2 linked regions of the Homo sapiens genome follow. The protein of the gene in region 1 purifies or fractionates together with the protein of each later gene. This does not show direct contact. Each region holds a gene or a part of one and is shown on either strand. Other genes may lie near its edges. The genes, in order: RAB41 and PPP5C.

The links.
Region 2: the proteins of RAB41 (region 1) and PPP5C purify together in Homo sapiens (affinity purification with mass spectrometry; 2 studies listed by BioGRID and IntAct, with this or other methods). This does not show direct contact.

The regions. Positions count from the first base shown.
Region 1 is NC_000023.11:70,280,796-70,285,071, forward strand, and holds RAB41 (ras-related protein Rab-41), read left to right. Parts: upstream 1-1,376; 5' UTR 1,377-1,422; coding exon 1,423-1,546; intron 1,547-1,737; coding exon 1,738-1,796; intron 1,797-2,006; coding exon 2,007-2,060; intron 2,061-2,472; coding exon 2,473-2,578; intron 2,579-2,717; coding exon 2,718-2,829; intron 2,830-3,154; coding exon 3,155-3,248; intron 3,249-3,470; coding exon 3,471-3,534; coding exon of another isoform or gene 3,535-3,641; exon of another isoform or gene 3,642-3,792; coding exon 3,793-3,848; 3' UTR 3,849-4,207; downstream 4,208-4,276. Other genes in the region: ARR3 (arrestin-C), read left to right, coding at 1-23, 304-313, 881-971. UniProt on the Homo sapiens protein: The small GTPases Rab are key regulators of intracellular membrane trafficking, from the formation of transport vesicles to their fusion with membranes.
Region 2 is NC_000019.10:46,381,543-46,385,351, forward strand, and holds part of PPP5C (serine/threonine-protein phosphatase 5), read left to right. Parts: exon of another isoform or gene 1-982; intron 983-1,868; coding exon 1,869-1,934; intron 1,935-2,237; coding exon 2,238-2,336; intron 2,337-3,261; coding exon 3,262-3,367; intron 3,368-3,809. UniProt on the Homo sapiens protein: Serine/threonine-protein phosphatase that dephosphorylates a myriad of proteins involved in different signaling pathways including the kinases CSNK1E, ASK1/MAP3K5, PRKDC and RAF1, the nuclear receptors NR3C1, PPARG, ESR1 and ESR2, SMAD proteins and TAU/MAPT.

The sequences.
Region 1 (4,276 bases):
GATCCATCCGAAGCCATCTCATGGTGAGTGACCAGGTGGAACTCACAGGGACGGCTGTCCTGAGGGCTGGGGTCCAAACCATTCTGATCTCATGAATTGGAGACTAGCAGTTTGCCTGGGGATGGAATAGCAATAGGTAGGCTGGGTGTCTAGGTATTCAGGGGAAGTGTGTGTGTCGTGTGTGCTGGAGCAAAGGATTGGGAAGTTGGGGGGGGGGGAAGTAAAGATACTTCTTCAGGGAACCGAAGAGCCTCTAATCAGCTTCAGCTCCATTTTTTCCCTCCGTCTCCATGCTTGCTACAGAGGCCGCTAGGTAATGGAATACAAGATTGGGAAGCCCCATTCCCCTCTTCCCATTTCCACCCTCCATGTTATGACGATAGAAATGTGAAAATGCTTCCTTGGGGTGCTTTCAATACATGTGCAGTGGAAACATATGGCTTAGCTTCGTGTCACAGTTCGGTGCTTTTCATATGCCCTCCTTTCCCTTTCTGCATCCCCCCGCCCTCCACCTTCTGCTCTTGTTGGAATCATCCTTCCCCCTCATCCCCTTCCCATTTTTCTTTTTCCTTTTCCCCCACCCGCTCGCCCTTACTTCTTTCGTCTTTCATTCTTTGATACCTTCCCTCCTTCCCATCCCTCATCCTTATGTCCCTTTCAGTGCTCCTGGGGGACTTTTGTGCTGGGAAATTTGGGCGGGAATGAAAGGAAACAAGCCAGAGTGGCTGATGGAAAAGTGGGGACACCAAGAGGGGGCCGAGGAGCCTACCTGGGAAGCAGGGAGGGGATCACTTTTCTGGGATCAGGAAAAAAGAGTGGACACGGAGGACACCCAGAAAGGGGTTCCTAACCTTCCATTCTCTTCTGCTGCTTCTGCAAGCTCTGAGGACATAGTCATCGAGGAGTTTACGCGGAAAGGCGAGGAGGAGAGCCAGAAGGCTGTGGAGGCTGAGGGAGATGAGGGGAGCTGAGCACCTCGCTCTGGTGCCCGTCTGTGTGGGAGCCCCCACTGTAACACTCTAATAAATCAGTTTGTTCAGATGTGCCTAGCGATCTCTTGCCTATTTCCTCTTCCTGGAGGGTCACGGAACTACTGAGAACAATCTTCCCCACCTCCACCCCTTTGCTGTGATTACACTACACTTAGCCCGTGCTTTTCCCCATACGCTGACCCCAACTTCCCTCTGACACGGTCAGTGGCCATCCCTCTCTCCACCCCATGACCCCACTCGAGTGGTCATAGGATTGCGCTGAACACCAGGCGCAGTGCAAGCTGCCAGGAGGGGGCCGAGGGGGCGTGGCCATGCCCAGGCCTGGGTGTGAAGCCAATGGCCGTCAGCCGACGTCAGTAGAGCATGGCGTGAAGTCCGGCGGCTCAGGCTGAGCGTTGGAAGCCATTTTGGCTGCAACCTACCTGAAGCGATGTCTGCCTTTGGTCACGACGAGGCCTGGATGGAGGCCGGAGGCTTTGGTCTGGAGGCTGCCGAAAGAACGGAATACCAGTCTCTGTGCAAATCTAAACTCTTATTCCTGGGAGAGCAGAGCGGTGTGGGTCTGGGTTGGGCTTTGGGGACATGGAGGTGTAATTGGTATGAAATGGGGTGGGGCATTCTCTGGGGAACCGAGTTCCTCCTCGTTGGGAAAGATTGGAGTTGGAGGAGGAGGGAGGGCTCATAGAAACTTTGAGGGGAGAAAGGGCACTGAGGGCGACGATTGGCCTGCTTATCTCCCTCACAGTAGGGAAGACATCCATCATCAGCCGCTTCATGTACAACAGCTTCGGCTGCGCCTGCCAGGTAAGACCACCACCGAGTCATATGGTACATTTTTGCCACTCTTCTTGGCGGACTCACCTGGAGATTCTCCTCCTCAAAGTTATGTATTGTAAGCATTGGGAAGTGGAGCCAGGACAACTTCTTGAAGGGTCATTCTCCACTTTGGGTTCTAAGACTGCCTCATATTGGGAATAGAGGGAATGCTGGAGTGTATCTGATTTTCTTTTGCAGGCAACTGTTGGAATTGACTTCTTGTCTAAGACCATGTACTTGGAGGACCAAATAGTGAGTGTTAACTCTCATACCACTAACCCTACACTTCAACCCCTTAGGCCTATTCATCACAGTTGGGTAGCACCATCAAAAAAAACTGAAGCCTCTTCAAATTACCAAGCCCTATGATGTTTCTTGTTCTGTCTGCCTTCATCTAATCTCCAACTGTAACATAAAGTCCAAGAGACCTTGAATCCTTAAATCTGCTGTGCTGTAGGGTCTTCCTGAATCAAAACAGTATATTGAAATTGGTTGGACCTGTCCTAGGACTATAGGCCATTTGGTCTGAGGCTATAGCAGCCACTTCTCAGGGATCCAGTCTACCTGACCTTTTGTATTCTGCCTTTATTAGGTTTGAGCTTTTTAAAAAGGCTAGTTTCTTGTCTACCTTTCCCCCATCTTCTTCCTAAACATTTTTATGCAGGTTCAGCTGCAGCTATGGGACACAGCTGGCCAGGAGCGCTTTCACAGCCTAATTCCTAGCTACATTCGTGATTCAACTATTGCAGTGGTTGTCTATGACATTACAAGTGGGTGTTATGCAATGTTTTATTTGAAAAGGGGATTATAAAGGGATTGATAGGGAGATTGACAAAATTAGCAGAGAGGAAGTGTTCTCTCCAAATCTCTCCTAAATGTTTCAACGCTCTGGAACATATTCTCTTGCAGACATCAATTCTTTTAAGGAGACAGATAAGTGGGTAGAACACGTGCGAGCAGAAAGAGGTGACGATGTTGTCATCATGTTGTTGGGTAACAAGATTGATTTGGATAACAAAAGGTAAAGTATAACTACAACTTCTTCTGGCATACCTAAAATTCAGTCTCTATGGGGAGGGTCAACTGTCCTCTATTTACTTGGGGAGGAGTTACCTTAGTCCCCTCTGCCCCCTACCAGCACTGCAGGATGGGAAGGACAGGGGGGCGTCCCATCAGGGCACAAGGATATGTTGGGGGTATAGGAGAGAGTCCCCACCCTGTAGTCAGAAGGGTCATGGGTTTAAGGCTTCTAGGGTTCCTGGCCCTAGGTAAGCATCATTACACCTCAGAAGAGTCTATCCATATCCAATAACTCTGGCCCTTTTCATCATTTCTGATTCGTCCAGACAAGTCACTGCAGAACAGGGTGAAGAAAAATCCAGAAACCTCAATGTGATGTTTATTGAGACCAGTGCCAAAACCGGTTACAACGTGAAAAAGGTAATACTTGTTTCTTTCTATGATACTTTAATTGTGCTCTGTCTGTAGCTACTACTACTGTTTACTCTTTTGGATAAGCTTGGCTTATCTTTTGTGGGATAGGGGTCAAGGTTCATCTCCCCATCATGTATCTCAAAGGCCCTGAATTATCCTAGCCTCTGAACCTGACCTTTTTTTTTTCCCCTTTTTTTTTTTTTGGTCCCCATTCACACACACACACAGCTGTTCCGGCGTGTGGCTTCTGCCCTTCTTTCCACAAGGACTTCACCTCCACCAAAAGAGGGGAGTATCCTTTTTCCTAGCTTTGCTGGGGTAGGGAGTATACAAGTAGAGAAGGTAAGTTTCCTTGCTGAGTTGATGCCTGAGTGGTACCTAAGGGGAAAATGGGACTAACTTTAGCCCAAAGTAGTTCCTTCGTTTGCCTTTAGGTGAGAGGGATTGTAAGATCAGAATTCCTCTTCTACATCTCCTAGAAGCTGACCTTGGGTGTTAAGATTTGACTCCAGTCACCTCACTGTATTAGCTTCCTTGACACACACTTCAGCGGTTGAAATCGAACTGGAATCCTTCGAGGAGTCAGGCAACAGAAGCTATTGTTGACAGCTTAGGCTTTCTCTGCCTCATTTGATGGATTTCTTACATTTGGGCTTGCCATACCAGTTCTCCTCCCCACCTCGTTTTATGATACATGGCCACTTACTCTCTTCCAATTCCTAGGCTTGGGGTAAAAACAGAACCCCTGAAAGTGCTATCATTTTTTCCTGACCGCATCTCACAGCTACTGGGTGGAAGCTTCTTGCAGCACCTGGGAATTCTACCTTACCTTCTCCGACAGCTAAAAGACATCTGTAGAGAATACAGTTCTACAGCAGCTGACATACTTCAAAGGCCAATACAATTCATTCTCCACTGTTTGTTGTTGTTTACCTACACCCTCAATAAATGGTTCTTTAACCTAAGGCTGTTATTGCTTGTGCTTTCTCCACACTATACCTATATTTCCACAATGCAATTATCTCATGTTGGTG
Region 2 (3,809 bases), on another chromosome or scaffold:
TCAAGACCAGCCTGGGCAACTTGTAGAAACCCCACCTCTACAAAAAAAATACAAAAATTAGCCAGGCATGGTGGTTGGCACCTGTAGTCCTAGCTACTTGGGAGGCTGAGTGGGGAGGATCACCTGAACCTGGGAGGTTGAGGCTGCAGTGAACTGTGTTCGAGCCACTGCACTCCAGCCTGGGTGACAGAGTGAGACCCTGTCTTAAAACAAATAAACAAATAAGAAAATGGCACACATTTCTCCTGTTGAGCCACAAGAGGGAGGGGCTGTGTGAACCTCATCTGTAGTTTAGGGGCAGCTTTTATTGGAGTTTCTTTACCACCGGCTTTAAATGTGTTCAGAGTAGAATTAGGACTTTCCCTTCAGCAGAGCTTGGGATCTTAGCCCTGGCAGAATTCCAGGGATGTCTTTATGTTTTAAAGTCGCCAGCTTTTGGAACTGTGGGAGGCCTCTGGTATTCAGCCCTGCCGCCAGACTGTGGGGCCACTGGGGTGCTCTCCGCTCTCCAGTCTCGCCCCCACTTCTGTACCTCAGGAGGTTTCTCTGCACCTCACTCCCTCGCGCCCAACCTTCCATGAAGCCCGTGTGAGGGAGTTGGCAGGGGGCAGAGGCGGGCTGTGCTGGGGCTCCCTGGAGTCCTCATCTGTCACGCCAGTCCCCACACGGTCATGAACTTCCACTCATTTCCCCTCACGCAGGGCATCCCGCCCTGCTGCCTCGCACCAGGGTGAAAGCTGTGGGCTCCTTCCCCAAGGAAGGGCTCGTCCTGTCTGCATTTTGATTAATTTAGGTCCCTTTGCATTGCCAGCTCTCAGATGGCTTTACCTTTGATTTTGTTGCTTGTTTGGCTTGTTTTCATCTTTAGGGCGAGACAGTCTTTTGTAACTTTTCTACCTTCTGACTAGAAGTGGATGCCGCCTGCATTTTCTTAACACCTTTTTCCCCAGCTTATTTTGGAAATCGTCAGACCTACAGAGAGCTGAAAGAACAGTACAGTTAACATCTGTCCACCCTTCACACAGATTCACCACTTGTGAACATTTTAATGCATTAACTTTATGTGTCTGTCTACTTATTTATGCATTTGTATGTGTATACTTTTTTCTTTTTTTTCCCCTAACCCATTTGAAAGTAAGTTGCAGCCATCATAACCTGGATCTCCCAAAAACAAAGACGTCCTCTTGTGTGACCACAGTTGAATTGTCCTACCTTAGAAATTCATCATTGATGTGATAATACTGACTAAGGTAGACAGTCCACAGGCCATCCGGAAAATCTGGAAACATTGACAAATATGCATGTCATTGTCAAGGTCATATCCAATCTGTGAAAAATAAATCATCTGCATTTCTAGACATCTATTAGTATTTTAATTCTCCCCAGCTCTCCCCAAAACATCCTTTTTAGCTGCTTTTAAAAAATTCAGCGTCCGTTGAAAGCACCAGTGTTGCCTATGACCTGCCTTTTTACCTCTTTTTACCTAGAAAGTCTCACTTCTTTTTTGGGAGACTCTTTTATGACAGTGACATTGCGCTGTGTCCAGGCCAGTTCTTTTATAAAATGTTCTACGATCTGGATTCATGCATGTATTTCCACTTGATGCTGAGTATTTTAAGATAATTCAAGAATCAGGTTTTCGTACAAAACAATCGCAATGCTTCGGCACTGCACAGGCCACAGAAGCCTGCGGCTGCCTCCGGCCCCGCCTGCTCCCGCTCCCCCAGGCCTGCCCTGCCCTTTTTCTTCTCTCCCTGCTTCTCCCTCGCCCTCAGCCCAGCAGCGTCTCATGGGCAGTCCAGGCTTTCGGGGCCAGGTTGGGCAGCAGCCCCTGCAGCCGGTCCCACTGAGTCTGCCCTGCCTTCCAGATTCTGGTACAGGTCAAAGAGGTCCTCTCCAAGCTGAGCACGCTCGTGGAAACCACACTCAAAGAGGTGCGCGTTGTGGGGCAGTGCGGGGAGGGCCAGCGGGGGTGGGCTCTCTGGCTGGGGAGGGGCCACAGAGCTCAGGAACTCACGGATCCACCTCCCTCTCTCCCTCACACCCCACCCCTGTGCCTTTCCTCCTGAATATCCCATTTCTCTCCTGGCCTCTTGGTCTTCGTTTGTGTTCCCTGCTTGTGTCTCTTGCATGATTCTTCTTGGTCTACTGTGAACTCTTACCCTTCCCCTCACCTCTGCCCCCTCCCCACGTCTCTCTCTCGGCCCGTCCCTCTCCGGTGGCCTCTTTTCTTTCAGACAGAGAAGATTACAGTATGTGGGGACACCCATGGCCAGTTCTATGACCTCCTCAACATATTCGAGCTCAACGGTTTACCCTCGGAGACCAACCCCTATGTATCCTTCTCAGCAGAGCCACCCTCTCCCCACCTCCACCCCCAGCCGCAGCCTCAGGTCTGCACAGAGTGGGAGGAGCCCTTGCCAGGAAAAGACGTGACCTTGGAAAGGAGAGGCCTGGCCATGCTGGGGCACCAAGGTGTGGGTGGAGCTGCAGGCTGGCCATGCACCCCAGGCTCCAGGCTCGGACAGGCCTGGGCCAGCACCCACCTGCTGTGTGACCTAAGCTGGTAGCTCAGTCTCTCTGGGTCTTGGCTTGTCTTCGTCTGCCTCAGGATCACATTTGAATGGCACCTGGCACTGGCCACACTTGGGTTCCATCCTGGCTTTGCCACTTCCCAGCTGTGTGACCGAAGCAGGTTACTTCACTGCTTGGTGTCACAGTTTCCCCATTTGCAAAGAGGGATAATAATATGTGCAACCTTGTTACTCAGCAGTTACTGAGAGGACAGGTTAAGAACAGGGCCTGGCCCACACCTGATGCTATCTAAGTATTTCCCCGTGTTATGGTATCTGCTCGATGAACGGCCACTTGTAGGGCCACTAGGCCTATGCATTGTTGAGTGGGAGGGCCCGTGTCCCATCTCCCCCATGGCTCCAGGCCTCTCTGAGGAGAGCTGAAGGAGGTGGACTGACTAGTCCCCGCACCTCCCCGCCACTGGCTTTCCGGGAGACAGGAGGCAGGGTCCTCAGTGCCATACTACTGAGGCTCAGCGGCCAAGCTCTGGCTGGAGCCACGGTGAGGAAAGGATTAGAAACCCAGATCCCTTGAGCCCTGCCAAGTCCTCACTCCCTGGGAGGTGCTGACAGGAGGCTTGAGGCCAGGCAGGAGCAGCCCATCTGGCCCATCTTCTGCCACCACCCCCAACCCCACCGCACCGCACCCTTCCCCTCCACGCTTGCCATGTTTTCCTCAGCAGGACAGATATTTAATGGTGACTTTGTGGACCGAGGCTCCTTCTCTGTAGAAGTGATCCTCACCCTTTTCGGCTTCAAGCTCCTGTACCCAGATCACTTTCACCTCCTTCGAGGTGAGCTGGGAAGTGACAAGGTTTGGGTTCATTGTGGGGTCCTGAGTGGGGCACTCACTCTGCAAGGATAATAGTTGCAGCTGTATTTATTTTGTGGACTCGGAGATCATGCACAGGGCGACCTTTTAAGATTGAGTATGTAGTGCACTGCACAAAAGCATCACACCAAAGGACGCGTTTACATCATAGATAGTGTAGAAATGGATGTTTACTCTGACCATTTTTCAGCAGATGGCAAACAAGGGTGTGAGGATGGGCCCCTTATTCTAATTTGCACAAGGGCATGAAACAGGCTCCTGGGTGGCCCTAAATCTGGCACTAAAGCTGAGTGACTGAGTGAACAGACCAGGGCTCGAGGGTGGGAGTAAGGAGACTGTTGACGAGGCAGTTGTGCCCCCTCAGATTCAGGCTTGGTGTCAGATTTGGGTTCTCTTGATTGAAG